Linked DNA regions of Homo sapiens: regions 1, 2 and 3 are each linked to region 4. The links come from fine-mapping of genetic effects on gene expression. A gene starts in region 4. Each other region holds a variant in brackets. All regions are shown on one strand. Distances are between the middles of the regions.

Region 1 (4,218 bases), 38 kb after region 4:
AAGAAGAGTAGGGCATTTATAAGTAGTTGAGAATGGAGAATAGGAGTATGACCAGACAGAAGATAGTAGGGATGACTAGTTTTTTTGGGCTCGGCCTAAGTGGTTGGGGTGACTTCGTAAAGCCCTGTTGCAAAAAGTAGGGTAAGGACGAACAGACCTAATAGAATGAAGGGATGTATTAGGCTCATAAGGGTTATTACTGCTCTTCAGAAATATGAGTGAGTTTAAGGGAAGTAGGGGAGAGTACTTGCGGCTTCCAGGAGGAAGAGGAGGGATTAGGCTGGCTGTCCGATGGACACAGCTTTATTCTGGAATGGTGAACCTAGTGGGGAGGATCCTGCAGGCAGACGGCAGTCGGGGTACTATAGAAGACGAGGTAGCATCCGGTCCATCGAGGTTGTAGAGTTTGAGGGGTCAGATTCTTAACAAGAACTGATCATCCAGCTAGGATGTCTCCATATGGCTGGGGATCTGGAGTAGGCAAGAGAAGATTAGCAGCCTGGTGAATTTCCTGTCTAGCCTGCTGGAGGACTGGAAGATAGTCACCTAGAGGGCTGGTGTCTGGGATGAGGTTGGGGCCAAGCAAGAAAGTGTGTCCATATAAAAGTTCAAATGGACCGTACCCTGTAGCATCTCAAGGACAGGCTCTAATTCTGAGAAGAGCAAGAGGTAAAAGTACTGTCCAATCCTTTTTAAGTTGGAGGCTGAGCTTGGTGAGGTTTACCTTTAAAAGACCATTAGTCCATTCTACCTTTCCTGAAGATTGAGGATGGTAAGGGATATGAAGGTTCCACTGAATACCAAGAGCCTGAGAAACTGCTTGGGTGATTTGACTAGTAAAGGCTGGTCTGTCATCAGACTGTATAGAGGTGGGAAGCCTAAACTGAGGAATTATGTCTGACAGAGGGGAAGAAATGACTGTGGTGGCCTTCTCAGACCCTGTAGGAAAGGCCTCTACTTATCTAGTGAAAGTGTCTACTTAGACTAAGAGGTATTTTAGTTATCTGACTTGGGGCATGTTGAGTGAAGCTAATTTGCCAGTCCTGGGTGGGGGCAAAACCTTGAGCTTGATGTGTAGGGAAGGGAGGGGGCCTGAATAATCCTTGAGGAGTAGTAGAATAGCAGATAGAATAGCAGATGGAACACTTGAGAAGTTATTTCCTTGAGGATAGATTTCTACAATGGAAAGGAAATGAAAGGTTCAAAGAGGCGGGCTAGTGGCTTGTACTATAGCATAGCCTGCCTTTGCTGATGTGTGGTGATTAGGCCTGGTGGAACTGCCATCAATAAATCAAGCGTGATCAGGGTGAGAAACAGGGAAGAAGGAAATGTGGGGAAATAGGATGAACATCAGGTGGATCAGAGAGATGCAATCATGAGGGTCAGGTGTGGTATCAGGAATACTGTGGGAGGCTGGATTGAAGTCCAGGCCAGGAACAATGGTAATTGTGGGACTTAACAAAGAGTGAGTACAGCTGAAGGAGCTGGGGAACAGAAAGTATATGCGTCAGGTATGAGGAAGAAAATAGATTTTGGAAGTTATGAGAAATGTAGAGAGTGAGTTGAGCATTGTTTGTGATTTTTAGGGCCTCTAAAATTATTAAAGCAGCAGCAGCTGCTGCACACAGACATGAGGGCTAGGCTAAAACAGTAAGGTCAAGTTGTTTCGACAGAAAGGCTACAGGGTG[C/T]GGTCCTGGCTCTTGTGTAAGAATTCTGACGGCACTAACCATGCCTAGGAAGGAAAGGAGTTGTTGTTTTGTAAGGGATTGAGGTTTGGGAGATTAATTGGACATGATCAGCAGGGAGAGCATGTGTGTTTTTATGAGAATTATGCAGAGATAGGTAACAGATGGAGAAGAAATTTGAGCTTTGGAGGGGGATACCTGATATCCTTTGGAGAATAAATGCTGAAGAAGCAGAAGTGTGTCTTGTTGAGAAGATTCAAAGGAGGGGCTACAAAGAAGAAGGTCATCAATATATTGAATAAGGTGAGAAGCAGAGGGGTGGAAAGAAAGTAGATCATGAGAAAGAGCTTGGCTGAAGTAAATGAGGGCTGTCCCTGAAACCTTGCGGCAGCACAGCCCAGGTAAGCTGCTGGGACTGTTGGGTGTCAGGGTCAGTCCAGGTGACAGCAAAGAGAGGCTGGGATGAGGGGTGCAGGGGAATAGTGAAAAAAGCATCTTTAAGATGAAGCACAGAATAGTGAGTTGTGGAGGAAGGTATTGAGGACAAAAGAGTGTACAGGTTGGGCACCACAGGGTGGATAGGCAAAACAATTTGGTTGGTAAGGCGCAGATCCTGAACTAATCTGTAAGACTTGTCGGGTTTTTGGACAGGTAAAATGGGGGAATTGTAAGGAGAGTTTATAGGTTTTAGAAGCCTATGCTGTAGCAGGTCAGTGATAACAGGCTTTAATCCTTTTAAAGCGTGCGGTGGGATGGGATATTGGCGTTGAGTGGGGTAAGGGTGATTAGGTTTAGTGGGATGGTAATGGGCATGTGATCGGTTGCCAGGGAAGGAGTAGAGATGTCCTATACTTGTGGTTAAGGTGGGGGGATATGAGAGGAAGACGCAAAGGAGGCTTTGGGTTGGGGAGAAGGGTGGCAATGAGATGCAGCTGTAGTCCAGGAATAGTCAGGGAAGCAGATAATTTAGTAAGTGTCTCGGCCTAATAAGGGAACTGGGCAGGTGGGGATAACTAAAAAGGAGTGCTTAAAAGAGCATTGTCTAAGTTGGCACCAGAGTTGGGGAGTTTTCAGAGGTTTAGAAGCCTGGCTGTCAATACCCACAACAGTTATGGAGGCAAGGGAAACAGGCCCTTGAAAAGAAGGCAACGTGGAGTGGGTAGTCCCCGTTTCGATTAAACAGGGGATGGATTTACCCTCCACTGTGAGAGTTACCCAAAGCTTGGCGTCCGTGATGGTCCAGGGGGTTTCCAAGGCGATGAGGCAGCGTCACTCTTCAGTCGCTAAGCCGAGAAGGAGTCAGTCAGAGAGCCTTGGGCCAGAGTTCTCAGGGCTCTGGGAGTGGCTGCCAGGTGAGTTGAACAGTCTGATCTCCAGTGGGGTCCCGCACAGATGGGACATGGCTTAGGGGGAATCCTGGGCTGCAGACATTCCTTGGCCTGGGGGTCAGATTTCTGGCACTTGTAGCAAGCTCCTGGGGGAGGAGGTTCTGGAGGAACACCTGGCTGCTGTGGTTCAGGCATTTGGAAGTTCTTGTGTGCTGGAGATGTGGCTGGGGTTTGTCTCACAGTGGAGGCAAGGAATTGCAACTTTTTTCTATTATTGTACACCTTGAAGGTGAGGTTAATTAAGTCCTGTTGTGGGGTTTGAGGGCCAGATTCTAATTTTTGGAGTTTTATTTAATGTCGGGAGCAGATTGGGTAATAAAATGTATATTGAGAATAAGATGGCCTTTTGACCTTTTAGGGTCTAGGGCTGTAAAGCCTCTCAGGGTTACCACCAAACAAGCCATGAACTGGGCTGGATTTTTATATTTGATGAAAAAGAGCCTAAACGCTATCTGATTTGGGATAAAGAAAAAGGAGCATTAACTTTGACTATGCCTTTAGCTCCAGCCACCTTTTTAAGAGTAAATTGCTGGGCAGGTGGGGGAGGGCTAGTCATGGAAGGAAACTGTAAGCCGGACCAGGTGTGAGGAGGGGAGGTGATAAAAAGATTATAGGGTGAAGGAGCAGAGGCTGAGGAAGAATTGGGACCTAGCTCGGCCTGGTGAGGAGGGGAGAGGTCAGATGGGTCTGTAGAAAAGGAAGATTAGAAAGACTCAGTGATGCTTGGGGTTGGGACTGAGGGAGGGAAAGAAGGAAGATTTGGGACGAGTTGCACTGGGCACAGAGACTAGGAAGGGACTGATGTGTAAAAGAATGCCTGGATGTCAGGCACCTCAGACCATTTGCCCATTTTACGACAAGAATTATTTAGATCTTGTAGGATGGAAAAATTGAAAGTGCCATTTTCCAGCTATTTGAAACTACTGTCGAGTTTGTATTGGGGTCAAGCAGCATTGCAGAAGAAAATAAGGCATTTAGGTTTTAAGTCAGGTGAGAGTTGAAGAGGTTTTAAGTTCTTAAGAACACAGGCTAAGGGAGAAGAAGGAGGAATGGAGGGTGGAAGGTTGCCTATAGTGAAGGAGGCAAGTCTAAAGAAAAGAGAGAGTAGAGACAGAGAGGGAAGGGGTTTGGGGGTTCTTACCCTC
Region 2 (4,000 bases), 42 kb before region 4:
TCTAATTTCTGGTGATAAAAATAACGTGAAAAATAAAGTGCCCAAACCACAATAAAATTAATTTTGGGGACATCACAGGTTTTAAAAAAATCAATTATATTAGGCAAATAACATAGCGTAATACATTTGTAATTATAATTAACAAGGGTAAAATATCAAAATCCAAACCTTCAAATACAAAAAACAAAGTGTTCTTTGTGTCACATTGTTTATAAGGGAAAAAAATCAAAGAGAAGTAAGCTAGCATCAAGAAAAGAATGGGATAGAATGGGATAATGAACATTCAGGGCAAAGTGATCTACTAGAGATAAACGGAGAATTCCTGGCTAGCAAGAACGCATGCTTAGCCTAATTGAATAATCGTCCTAACCCCACTCTGTCAGGGGAATCATACAGTGGTCTTCAGAAACAGCTGACAGCCCAGGGTGGTCCACTAAGACCCTTCTGAGCGGAGGAAAGGCAAAAGGGAAACACAAACTAGATTTCACTAGACTCCCATTACCTGACAGGAGCTTTAGTCCAAATAAATCCTCACAACAGCCACATATAGAAGCTGTTTTCCCATTCTCCAGATGAAGACTCAGCTTAATTTCTCCAGGTCCACAGAATTAAAAAGTTAAAGAGCCAACGTTTGACATTAGCTCCAAAGCTGACACTCTTTCCATTAAAATACACTGCAAGAGGATGACTGGGATCCTTTCCTACTCCAAATTACAAAGATTTTACTCAAAGTGTGCTGTTTTCTCCCTGTTGTCTTTTTTATTTTTTAGAACACATCTCCTTTGCATACTCCTCACACTGCGATGACTGGTTTACCTGAGTGTCTGTTACTCACGCTGTCCCCAGAGAAAGGGCAGCACTGCAATCCGAGGTCCCAGCAAGGACCCGCCGGGCTGGTGCTCAGCACAGGACTGGACCAACGCCCTTGTGGATCAAGAATTTCTGGGTTTTTGTAGGGTATTAATAAGTCATCAGAGCATGTGGATATTTAATATATTTGATTATTTGAAAAGGGAAAAGGATATTCAAAAAAAGAATTTTAATACCTTTTTATGTTGATGACAATATCATTTTGTAAACTTCCAAATATTAAGTATTAAAATGCATATATTTTTATTTCTAATCATTTTCATAATCACCTTGAAATTAAAATGAACATCTTTTTCTTTTTTTAAATTTGGAGGCAGTTCAAAGATTCTGGTTTTGAGAAGGAAAAAAATGGACTTGCCAGAGTGGTGCTTTTCAACAAAATAAGTTTGTGATAATAGACACCCCTAAATGCAATGCTCGCAGGAGTAAAAATGAAACACAGACACAGAGCTGGAGACAATCTTGGGAAGTCAGACTACTGTGGTCCTCTGAATTAACCTCTCATGGTATTTACAAAAATCTTAGGGAGTTAGCCTAACATATCTTTAATTTTTATCAGTATTGATTATGGATGAGCTCCACAGCCAGCCCTTACCTCATTGACAAACACAGAGTATCGTGCCAAAATCTGCAGAGTGAGTCTCCACAGGCGATGCACCAGTAATGGCAAGAACATCTCATCTGACCAACACCTCCTAAGGCTGCTCCAAGTTCTATGAGAAGCCAAAAGGCAATACGGACTTTCAGCTAGAGAAAAAACAACAACAACACACATTTAAGGAATTTCAGGCAATTTTAGGCTATAGTCTAATGTGAGACTTCCGATGTACGATTCAAAGGTAAAGAAAATGGCCTTCTGAAGAAAACCATGTGGTCAGCAAAGCTGTTGGAGGCACAGGGATGACGAGTGGCCACAATCCAAGTTCCCTACCACATCCTTCATGCCACGCACAATTTTACATGACACTATCTCCCAGGTGTTTGGATAAACATCAAATACATATAGCATTCAGAAATAACGTTTAATAGGTACTTCATACCAAATCGACAAACATGGGCTGGAGTGGCAATCACTTGCAGAGGTTTAAACTTCAGTTTCAAATTTGTCCTATTTCACAAGAGTCTTCCTCTATCTCAACATACTTCTTATTTTTATAGAAGAAGTTAACTACATATGACCATTTTTGGCAAAGACAGATGAAAACTAACTCTGAGGCTAAAATTGATTCAAAATGACAGTAGACTTAGCTGTATAAAAGAGAGTGGAAATTTAAGTTGAGGAACCTAGATATCAGCACACAGTATTTCAGTGGTCACTAGGAATAAATATATGATACAAAAATTAATGAGGCTGAAAGGGTATGTCAACATGTACTGGTAAGTCCACATACCTACAACTGTTACCTGCCCAACATCCTAGGATGGGCGGCCAGGGCACAGGAGGCCCAGGATGCATGCTCCAGCTGTGAGTCATTCTCAGTGAGACGCAGGAGCACCTGACCCTCTACCATGCAGACCAGTCCTCAGCCTGGGAGGAAGGCAGATCACAGCCAATT[T/C]GCTAAAAAAAACCAGCTGTTCACATAAGCACACCAAGGGGCCATATCCCCTGGACAAGTTATATTCAGGAATGAAAATGAGGTCTGTTTCCTATATTCTTATTCATTTTTCATCTCTATAAAGCAAGAACTCTATACACCAAAACTATTTGGTTTATTTTTACCTTATTAAAAAAAGAAGTCAGGCTGGGTGTGGTGGCTCATGCCTGTAATCCCAGCACTCTGGAAGGCCAAGGGGGGGTGAATCACTTGAGGTCAGAGTTCGAGACCAGCCTGGCCAACATGGTGAAACCCTGTCTCTGCTAAAAATAAAAAAATTAACTAGGCGTGGTGGTGTACACCTGTAATCCCAGCTACTTTCGAGGCTAAGCCAGGAGAATAGCTTGAACCTGGGAGGCGGGGGCTGCAGTGAGCCAAGATCATGCCATTGCACTCCAGCCTGGGCAACACAGCGAGACTCCATCTCAAAAAAAAAGCAAAAAAAAGAAGTCAAACTAAGTGATTTTTAAGGTCCAACTTACTGTATGATTAAAAAAAAAAAACAGTAAAAGTACGCTCAGAATACTGCAATCCAGATGACTTGGTGAACTGAATGAACTCATTTAGGATACCATGCCACTTATCACTTTAAGGGAGTTACCTGGGGCATCTTCCAGGACATCTGTAAGTGCTGCTTCTAAGGATCCCGCTATTTCTCTAAATCTGAGATAAAAACAAGAAGAAGAATTAATGTTTATGACTCTGACAGATGCCTTTCCCTATCCATTCTCTGTTTTTCCTAAGTAACAGGAACTTCCTCTGTCACTCACTGGTAAGTCCAGCCTCGGAATGCCTATTCTCCCAGGCTTTTTTTTTTTTTTTTTTTTAACTGAACAAGAAATCGTGACTAAGCCACTGTTATATAAGGGTTCTCTGTTATTTGCAGCTGGTCTGAATCATAACTTACCCCATGTTTCTCAAATTAAACAAACTGCCAGTTAAGTCTCCATCAAGAAGTTGTTGCTGGTGAGCAGCACCTGATTATGATCCTCTATTCACTTCAAGGCCATAAAACTTTGGTTCCTCCAACCCATCTATCTTAACACCATCACAGGAAGGTAAACGTCCCCAAGCTAAGAAAGCTGCATTCTGTACCTGTGTTGGCAGCTTGAGAAAAATCACAGGAAGTGGCCAGTTAAAACTAGAACTCACTGCTTGGTGCTCTTCTAATCTGTGACCCTCTCCCACGTCCATGGTACTTGCCCTTCGGGTTCTACGGCTGTCTGTACCAGCGCTTCCTAGATGTGCGTTCTTTTTTCCCTGATGACAGCTGGCTCACCTGGCACCTCAGCTCATCCTGTCACAGACTTCTGTTCTAATAATGGATATGGACATGTTTTTATGACTTTGTGAAAGGCAAATGTGTTATATAGTTTTTTTAAGCTAGCTGCTTTTGCAGGCATTGTTTTCTAACTATATAACTCTTGCAATTTCATATATCTCTTTACTAGCATGCTCTTTTGTCACCTGCTAATTGCCTTACTAGTAATGAATTCTGATGCATGCTCAATATCAATTTATCCAACTGATATTAA
Region 3 (4,214 bases), 52 kb before region 4:
TGACAGGTTTACAGTATGTAAGTATTATTTCATCTTTAAGCTTTATTCAATAGTAATTTCTCCAAAGCAAAGCAAATAAAACACATACCAAAGAAAGGAGAGATGTTCTGGGGGAACCATGGACAAAGGCTCTGAAGCCTTTCACTTTACTTAAAGATTCTTGTCTCTTTCCTTTTTCTTTTTTTCTTTGAGACGGAGTCTCACACTGTTGCCCAGGGTAGGGTGCAGTGGCATGATCTTGGCTCACTGCAACCTCTGCCTCCCAGGTTCAAGTGATTCTCCCGCCTCAGCCTCCTGAGTAGCTGGGACTACAGGCACGTGCTGCCATGACCAGCTAATTTTTTATTTTTAGTAGAGACGGGGTTCCACCACGTTGGCCAGGCTGGTCTCGAACTCCTGACCTCAGGTGATCCGCCCACCTCGGCCTCCCAAAGTGCTGGGATTACAGGCGTGTTTCTTAGAAATAGGTGTTATGGCATCAGGGCTGTCACTGAGAAAGGCAGTGTGCTGAGTCCAGGGCCAGCCTGGGGCTTGACAGGGTCAAAGAAATCAACAACTTGCGTTCCAATTCTTGACTGTCAACTTTGTTGTAGTGCTGATTTTAGGGATGAAGAATTATGTAACAATTAGTAAACCAGGCTCTGGAATTATCTTGCTTGGGTTTCAACCCTACTTATTAGTTATCTTGATGACCTAAGCTGTCCGTTTCCTCATCTGTAAAATGAGAATAATAATGCTGGAGTTGGATGGGCTGTTAAGTCATAACCCTCTCCTCCTATGTTCTAAAATAAATGAGAAGGGCAGAGCACTCAGGGAGATGGGGACAAACATTTGGGGTCTATTGATGAAGGCTGGAGTGGAGGAAGTAGTTTACCTCCATGTGGCTACTGAGGTAGCTTTGCACTGGATCGGCTTAGCGAGGCTGGACCTGTGTTCCCCACGACTCCCTTCCTGGGATGGTTTGAGGTTGGCCTTGGTCACAGGAAACAGCTGCAGGAGGTGGGGTGGGGTGGCTGCATGCTGATATGCAGCAGGCTGCTGCAGCCCAGGCTCCACTGCAGCTCTTGCATATTGACTCAGAGCTGCAGGCTCTCCTGCTGGCTTGGGGCGGGAGGCAGGCATGCAACTCCTCCAGCTCCTGCTGGGTCTCTTCCTTCAGCTTCCCTGAATGCTGGGCCAAGTGCATGTGCAGCTTCCTCTGCACATCACCCCATCACTGAAATGGGGAGACCAGGAGGCAGCAAGAGCCAGATGCGGGCTCCATTTATCCCCACGGGTTCCAGTTCATTCTCTCTCCCCCACTGCACGCCCGTCTTTCCTTCCGCTGGCCCCCTGCTGATGGTACCCCACCCTACCACAGCCCTGCCAGGTGAGCCGGCTCCCACACCAGGGAGGTCAAGCCCTGAGAAGAAATCCCTTCTCTGTCTCTCTCCCATGGTTCTGTCACTGACCAAATTTCCCAACAGTGAACTCCAGAACTGGACACTTCCCCCTCCAGGGGCAGGGCCTCCAGTCCTAAGCCCAAAGCAGATGCTCTCTACACAGGGCGCCACTGTCCAGTGTCTGTTACCTGCAAACAGAAAGTGCAAGCCCCTCTTTGTGGCAGGCTGGGGGCTGCGTGGAAGCCCCTGGGGCTCCACACACACCTGGCTCTTGGTGCTTTCACCACTGGGGTTTCCTCTGACTTCTCTAGCCCTCCTCATCCCGGTCTGTGCTAAAAAACTCAAGCCTGCTAACTACAGGACCTGCTCTCATTCCCTACCATTTACTTCCTCTCCCCAGGGCTAACCTTTGAACAAAGAAGGGACTGAGATGCACGGGAATGCAAGACTAAGGACTCAACATAGCTGCTTCCAGCTCCTCATCAGGCTGGGAGGGCCCAAGCCACAGCTAGGCGGGGGCTGCACGGCACTCCATGCTGCCTATGTGAGTTCAACCAACCAACCAGTCTTGGAGTGCCTCTCCCCAGTGCTTCCATCTCTTCTTCTCAGGGCAGTCTTCTTTCCTTCTACCCACATCAGCTTGCCAGGAAGGGCCTGCCGACTCCTAAGGAAGGTGTTACCCCTCCAAGGAAAGGAACTTCCACACATCGAAAGAAAGGGTCAGTGCTGGCCAGGACCCTTCCCATCAGTGCTAAGAGGAGCATCCGCCTGGAAGGGAATGTGTGTCATTACAGGGCATGAGTGACGAGGAGTGCTTCCCTGGTGGGGAATTCCCAAAGAAAACGAGCACACACTCA[TG/G]GGAGACACTTCTTTTATTTAGGAAGGAGGTCTTTCCTACTGGCGCCGGCTCCTGCCAGAGGTCGGGGTGACAGCAGGATCAGAAGCACTGCTCTCACACACAGTGGGAGTGGAGGATGGCTTCCCGCAGCCTCTTTAGAAAGCCCAGGAGTTCTCTTTATTTCAGAGAAGGGCATTTCTATACAAGACATCATTCCATTACAGTCGTCACTTCCAACTACAGGCTCAGGGAGACGACTCTTGATATTCATAGGTATATATTTACTTTAATCATATTTTAGAAATCAGCTCTTCCACACTAAGATTTACAATAAAAATAAAATAATTTGTTCTGTAAACTATAGTAGAAAGTTTCAAATGTCTTAAAAACTATCTTCCATACAATGGAAAAAGGCTTTTGTGTTCTTTTGGGCAAAGAAGACCCAAATACGCTGAGAGAAGACGCATGGGCGTGTTGCTGGAGTGATGCTGGAAGCACTTCTTTGCTACAGACGGTTGCTAAGAGAACAGAGTCACTTTCTCCCCTTCAGCCTGGAAGTCCAACTCTTCTCTTGCTTAAGAATCTAACCTCGGGATCTTCCAAGATGCTTAAGGCTGCTCTGCTGTTGCCTGGTCCTTGGCAGCAGCAACAAGCTCTGCGAGAGCTGAGAAGCTTTTTATGTCACTTGCTTGTAGTCCCAACTTTTGTATCTGCAAAGGCCATGAGAATGAATTATGTTACTGCAATTCAAGCTGAATATGGGGGGGGAAAAAAAAGAAAGAAAATCTTCATCCTCTACTAAACCAGAAGACAGTTCCCTGAAGACTTGTAGGATATTTTTTCCTCTAGAGCAAAGGATTTACTTGTTGTAAAATGTGAGGATTTTGGGGTCAAACACTTAGCATTCTAAGAAGCCAGTATGTTAATTTATCTCAGTTCATCAAATCAGACAGAATAAAAGCCTCTTTTGTGGGCCTAAAAACATTCTAGAAAAGAAAATCCACACTAGAGGAAATAAAAAAGTGAACTTTTAAGTAGAGAATTTTCAAAAAAGTACTGGTCTGTGCTCTTAGTTTCTTAACATATTGCCAAAAACCTTTTAGAATCAGATGAGTTGAAAACACTTTGTTTGGCAAAGCAACTACCGTGGATTATTTTGGTCACCGAGACATGGCACACTACGTTCCCACTTTTGTTTAAAAACGACAATAACAACACACACACACGTATACATCCATACACGCACACACACACACGCACCACACACACGCACAGAGAAAGATCCGGGAAGATACACACCAAGTCTCTGTCAGCATTTTGTGGTTTGTTCTGGGGACCGAGACTGCGGGAGCACCTTTTCCTTCCCCTCTCTTTCCTTTTAGTTCCCTATCCCACTCTCCTTCCTTCCTTCCCTTTCTTTTGCTCATTGGCTCTTCACGTTTCTATAACATACTTTCTTGCTTGTAAAAAGTCTTTGGGTTTTTTTGCCAAATAAAGAAACATGGCAGTTGACTTTTACCGGGATATATCTCTAAATTCATCTCAAAGCAGAAAAAAGTTGAATTTTCAGTGATGATCATGATGTGTAAAAGAAATTCCTTAGTGAGCTAGAAAATCAAGTGTCTTGTTTTGACTGCTTTTTTTTTTTTCTTTTTCTATTAACATTGTATCAGTTCTCCAAAACACCACCAAGTGTCCTCTTGTGGAAACTTTATGATTTCACTTTTTTTCCCTGTGGAAAGGCCTCCCTTGAGGACCTACTACTATGTGCGACGCTTTAACAGTTTAGAAGGCCAGTTTCTGAACATCTAGAGGTTTTATGATACTGTCCTCACAGTATCATAAAATTTCATTTTATGGTGAAATTTCATTTTCACCTCAGTGAAAAATGAAAAGACATTCATTGCACCTTATCCATATCACCTCTTAAGTGATAATATCCACATTACCATTCAACTACGTGCCATGATTCTAAAATTTGTGTTTTATAGGAA
Region 4 (4,198 bases):
ACATAGAAATATAGCCTGGACAAGTGTTCCAACCATCCTTTCTGCCATGGAAGTGCAACTTATATGTAGTTTTATATGTTTAAGGCAACACAAATTGCAAATAACCTTTATCTTCAAGCTCCACCTAAAAAATCAACAAAATTTTACACAGAACAGCTGTTCTATGTATTTTCTTCTATGTATGTTGTCACTTTTATAAGCACTACAAAATGTACCGCATATTCACAGAGCCACGAAATATGCAATTGCTGGCATTCCAGCCACCACCCCAGTTTGCACTCTAAGTTCTATTTTAGAACTTGTATTTCTGTGATTTCACTTCCTGAAGCTGCATTTACCAAAGGCATTCTGTCAACTCAGAGTGGGAAAGGTGGTGGGGCTAGTGAGTCAGAGAAGATGCTGGTGTTGAGCCTTAAGAAGTCAAGAGATGGACAAACTGAGATTATTCTGTACTCTGAGATTCTTGACGTCAACAAGGCCCCTGATCTCCGTGTATGGCCTTTCCTCTTCCAGGGCACCTCTCCCCAGCATGTACCCTTAGCTGTTTCTTTCTACCCTCATTTCAGGGTAGCTCTTAGCCAGTAGGCAAAACGAAGGGTTTCTGGATCAATGAGTTGATTCTGTACATTCTTTGAGACATCCTAATGAAGTTACACCTTTTAGTACAGTGGTCTAATAGGAATATCACTTACAAGAATAAGGTACATTATTCCTGGGTATAGATAAGTCCTACATACGAAAAATGATATGGTCACACTGGAGAAGATACAGATCTACTTTAAAAAAAAACAGCTTTGGAGATGTAATCTGAATGCAAATATTATCAAAAAGAGATAGGCTAATTAATCTAGAAAACATTATGTCACCAAGAAAGGCAGAGTAAGATTTCAACTCACTTGCTCAAAATTGTAGATGTCTACTAACCAGCTAAAACTTTTCGCTTTTTAACACTGAAAGCAGCTACTAAAAGGTGTCAAAAATCCTAGTCCTCAGGAAATTAAATAGAAACATTTTTTGAATGGCTTAAGTGCAGACCCAGAGGGATACACCAAGTAGGAGCAAAGCTCCTCCCAGCTCTCACTCAAAGCCTGGCCATTTTCAAGGCTGTGCCTGATGAACTTTATCATCAGTGAAGTGTTTTCAGTTTATATTTCTTTTCTCTAAGTTTATGACCTACAACTACCAACTTCTTCAAATGCATCACGTAAAAAGTAGAGCAACTTCTTTAAAGAGTAATGGTTTGCTTTGTCGTACTGCAATAGTCGGTAAGAATGTTCTAAGCTTCTAAATATCCCATTCTGGAAGCTTTAGCTGAATGTTAAGCAAAACTTCAGATTAAGTTCTTTTTCTTTCCGACCCGAGTCCCTAGGAAAGTACGTGGGCTTGGAGATTTATTCAACACACACTTAATGAGCTCCAAGGCCCCGGTCCACAAGCTTCTTTCCGACAAGGGGACTGGCAATCTGACTGCACTGCATGGTAACAGGAACGGGTAACAGTGGCTTTGACATGCAGCTCAAAACCACTTGCCCAGAACTTTCAGGCCTTTCCATGTAACACGCACGATTTTACAGAAGTGCTTTCTCCAGGCTGCACCCGCCAAACCTGACGCCAAAAGACTCATTGCGAAGTGCAGCGAGGTCTCGGCGGAGGACCTGACACTGAGCGTGCGCAGGCAGGAGCAGCCGACCGAAGAGACCGCCACAGAGGGCACAGGGCAGAGGCACCCTCATGGCCCGGCTCCGGGGAGCGGACGCCGCGCGCACCTTCATGAACTCGTCCTTGTCGAAGCAGAGCGTGTCCGGCCCCTTGGGCAGGTTCATCCTACTTTTCTCCATCCCGCCGGCCACCGCCTCTCAGTGCCAAGATCCAAGCGAGAAAACGCAGGAGGCTGCGCAGACCGACTCGGCGGCCGCGGCCACCGCCAGTTTCCACGGCACAGGGGGGTCCGCTTCCGCCAACATGGCAGCGCCCGCGCCGCGGCCAATGAACGACGGCACCGCAAGCCGGCCTGCGCCTGGCTCTGGCCAAGAGGGGCGCGGGGGCCGCCGCTGCTGCACGGGTAGGCCGTGCTGCCCTCATGTGGCGGAGGGCGGTACTGCAGCCTCGCGCGGGCTCCTGCAAGGCTGCCCACCTCCCTAGGAGGCGTGGCTGAGCTGCAGGGGTGGGTCAAAAGGGGTGAGCGGGTCTCCCTCCCACCCCCACCGTTTCTACTGGGAAAAATTGTCCTACAACGCTTTTCCAGTGCCTTCTACCCTGAGACTGCTCTGCTTCGTTATGCATGGCCAGAAGTTGGCCCTTTGGTTCTCAGGCCCGTTTTCCAGGTTGGACGTATCACCGTGGTCGCATTCTTCACCTCCCTGTGCGCGGTCACTGCCGCTGGTGGGCGCTAACGCCTCTATGGAGACCCCCGCCCTTAGCCTCTGTCCCCACAGAGAAGTGTAGCGTCTCCTCCACTGGGCTCCGTTACTGGGAACTCATAGGGAAGAAGGTGGTCAGCTAGGCGGCTTTGGGTCCTCTGAGTAGCTCCCTGCTCAACCTCGGTCTCCGTTCCAGGTGGGCAGCCTCTGAGCGCAACTTTGGGTCTTCAAGGTGCTTAAAGGAGTGCCTCGCTATCTGATTAAACACAGCAGACAAATACATGTGCATGCACATTTATTTTTAATTTCAACCAGGAATGGACAAATTTTTGTGTTGTGGCCAGTACTGGTGCAACCAAACCAATTTCTTAGACTGTCTTCCTCCTCCTCCCCCCACCCACCCCAATTTTATTCTGAGACGTTCTTCCTTTATCTCCTCCCTTGCTTTTTTCTCCTCTTGTCCCTTCCGCTAGCTGTAAATACCGTGGTCAAATGATGATGATTCATTTTTCTTCTTTTCTCCTTGACATTCGGATGATTCAAACCACAAACCTCACTTCACACTCTTCATTCTGCAAACCTTTCCTTCCCGCTTCTGTTGAGGAATCTAGGCCTCTCTTCCCAATTTTTCTCCTTGGAGATAAGATTAACGCCATGATGGCCTGTAAAAAGGAATGGGACAGCAGAGGGTAAGACCTCACCATGAGACTTTGTATTTCAAGTATCTCAACTAGAAAACTGGTCACTTAAAAAAAAATGTAGGCGTAGAATCCAAAACGCTCTACTCCCTAGCACTGGACCTAGCAGGCCCTGTTGAAGAGCCTATTTCCTGCCAGTATCTACAGAACAGATGAACAGGATAAGAGCCGGAAGCTAGCTGGAGGATCAAAATATTCTGCCAGAGGAGCGATTGGGAAAAGTACATCCTAAGTCCCTGTTATGTTTGTTTTGCTGGAGGAAATGAAAACCTCATTTTCTGTTTAATTTTTTGTTTTCTCTTGTTATGAAAATTTTCAAGTACACAGAAGTGTGGAGAGCACAAGAACCCCACCCTATGTACTTAGCACCTCGCTTCAACCATCATCAACCTGTCTCCTCTGCCCTTCCCCACCCACCGCATCGAGACCTTCTTTTTTTGTTGTTTTATATATATATATATATACATATATATATATATTTTTTTGAGACGGAGTTTCACTGTTGTTACACATGCTGGAGTGCAATGGCATGATCTCTGCTTACCGCAACCTCCACCTCCCAGGTTCAAGCGATTCTCCTGCCTCAGCCTCCCGAGTAGCTGGGATTACAGGCATGTGCCACCATGCCTGGCTAATTTTGTACTTTTAGTAGAGATGGTGTTTCTCCCTGTTGGTCAGGCTGGTCTCGAACCCCTGACCTCAGATGATCCACCCGCCTCAGCCTCCCAAAGTGCTAGGTTTACAGGCATGAACCACTGAGTCCAGCCCTTTTATTGGAATATGTTTTAAAGCAAATTCTAAACACCATATCATTTCCTATCCCCTAATACCTCAGTTTACGCATCAAAAGAAGAAAAAAAAACCCTGACATTTTGTAACACCTAACAAAACCAGCAATTCCAATAACCAATCTATAGTGGCTCTGAAAGGTGGGCCTTTATCCCAAGGTCACACTGTTAATAAGTGGCAAGTTGCAAACCCAGGCAGCCTGGCTTCAAAGCCCAGTACCAAGGCACGGGAGAGGATGCTGGACAGATGAAACAAAGATGTCTGCAACCCTGCCTTCTCTTTCGAGGCTCTGCAGGAAGTCTAGGTAAGCTGGAACTTGAACTCTTTCTTTCTTCACTGTAATTCCCTTCT

Which allele goes with the higher level. Positions count from the first base shown, and alleles are read on the strand shown. Sizes are in standard deviations (SD) of each study's normalised expression. Not every link is listed here.
For the expression in monocytes of the gene that starts at base 1,964 in region 4, allele C in region 1 goes with a lower level than allele T (moderate effect, 0.71 SD a copy in BLUEPRINT).

Evidence for each region. PIP is the estimated chance that this variant, and not a neighbour inherited with it, causes the effect. A credible set is the group of variants that fine-mapping cannot tell apart.
Region 1: its variant is the best candidate, but not a certain one, in a credible set for the expression of COG2 in monocytes (BLUEPRINT, PIP 0.85).
Region 2: its variant is the best candidate, but not a certain one, in a credible set for the expression of COG2 in thyroid (GTEx, PIP 0.79).
Region 3: its variant is the best candidate, but not a certain one, in a credible set for the expression of COG2 in whole blood (TOPMed, PIP 0.55).

The regions. Positions count from the first base shown.
Region 1 is chr1:230,602,434-230,606,651 of GRCh38, reverse strand. It overlaps LOC107985357 (a long non-coding RNA gene), which reads left to right and starts at 1,819. Exons shown (of 4, transcript XR_007066934.1): 1 at 1,819-1,988. It overlaps LOC124904544 (a long non-coding RNA gene), which reads right to left. Exons shown (of 3, transcript XR_007066932.1): 3 at 1-471. The variant C/T (reference allele first, on the strand shown) is at 1,689.
Region 2 is chr1:230,682,702-230,686,701 of GRCh38, reverse strand. It overlaps COG2 (component of oligomeric golgi complex 2), which reads right to left. Exons shown (of 18, transcript NM_007357.3): 11 at 3,067-3,128; 12 at 1,466-1,617. Among named protein-coding and RNA genes, the nearest start is that of AGT, 29 kb to the left of the region's middle. The variant T/C (reference allele first, on the strand shown) is at 2,427.
Region 3 is chr1:230,692,008-230,696,221 of GRCh38, reverse strand. It overlaps COG2 (component of oligomeric golgi complex 2), which reads right to left. Exons shown (of 18, transcript NM_007357.3): 18 at 2,240-2,930. The coding sequence ends at 2,829. Among named protein-coding and RNA genes, the nearest start is that of AGT, 20 kb to the left of the region's middle. The variant TG/G (reference allele first, on the strand shown) is at 2,240.
Region 4 is chr1:230,640,247-230,644,444 of GRCh38, reverse strand. It overlaps COG2 (component of oligomeric golgi complex 2), which reads right to left and starts at 1,964. Exons shown (of 18, transcript NM_007357.3): 1 at 1,767-1,964. The coding sequence starts at 1,838. LOC124904545 (a long non-coding RNA gene) reads left to right here and starts at 3,748. Exons shown (of 2, transcript XR_007066935.1): 1 at 3,748-4,151. RefSeq lists silencers at 298-417, 2,031-2,170 and an enhancer at 1,721-1,940.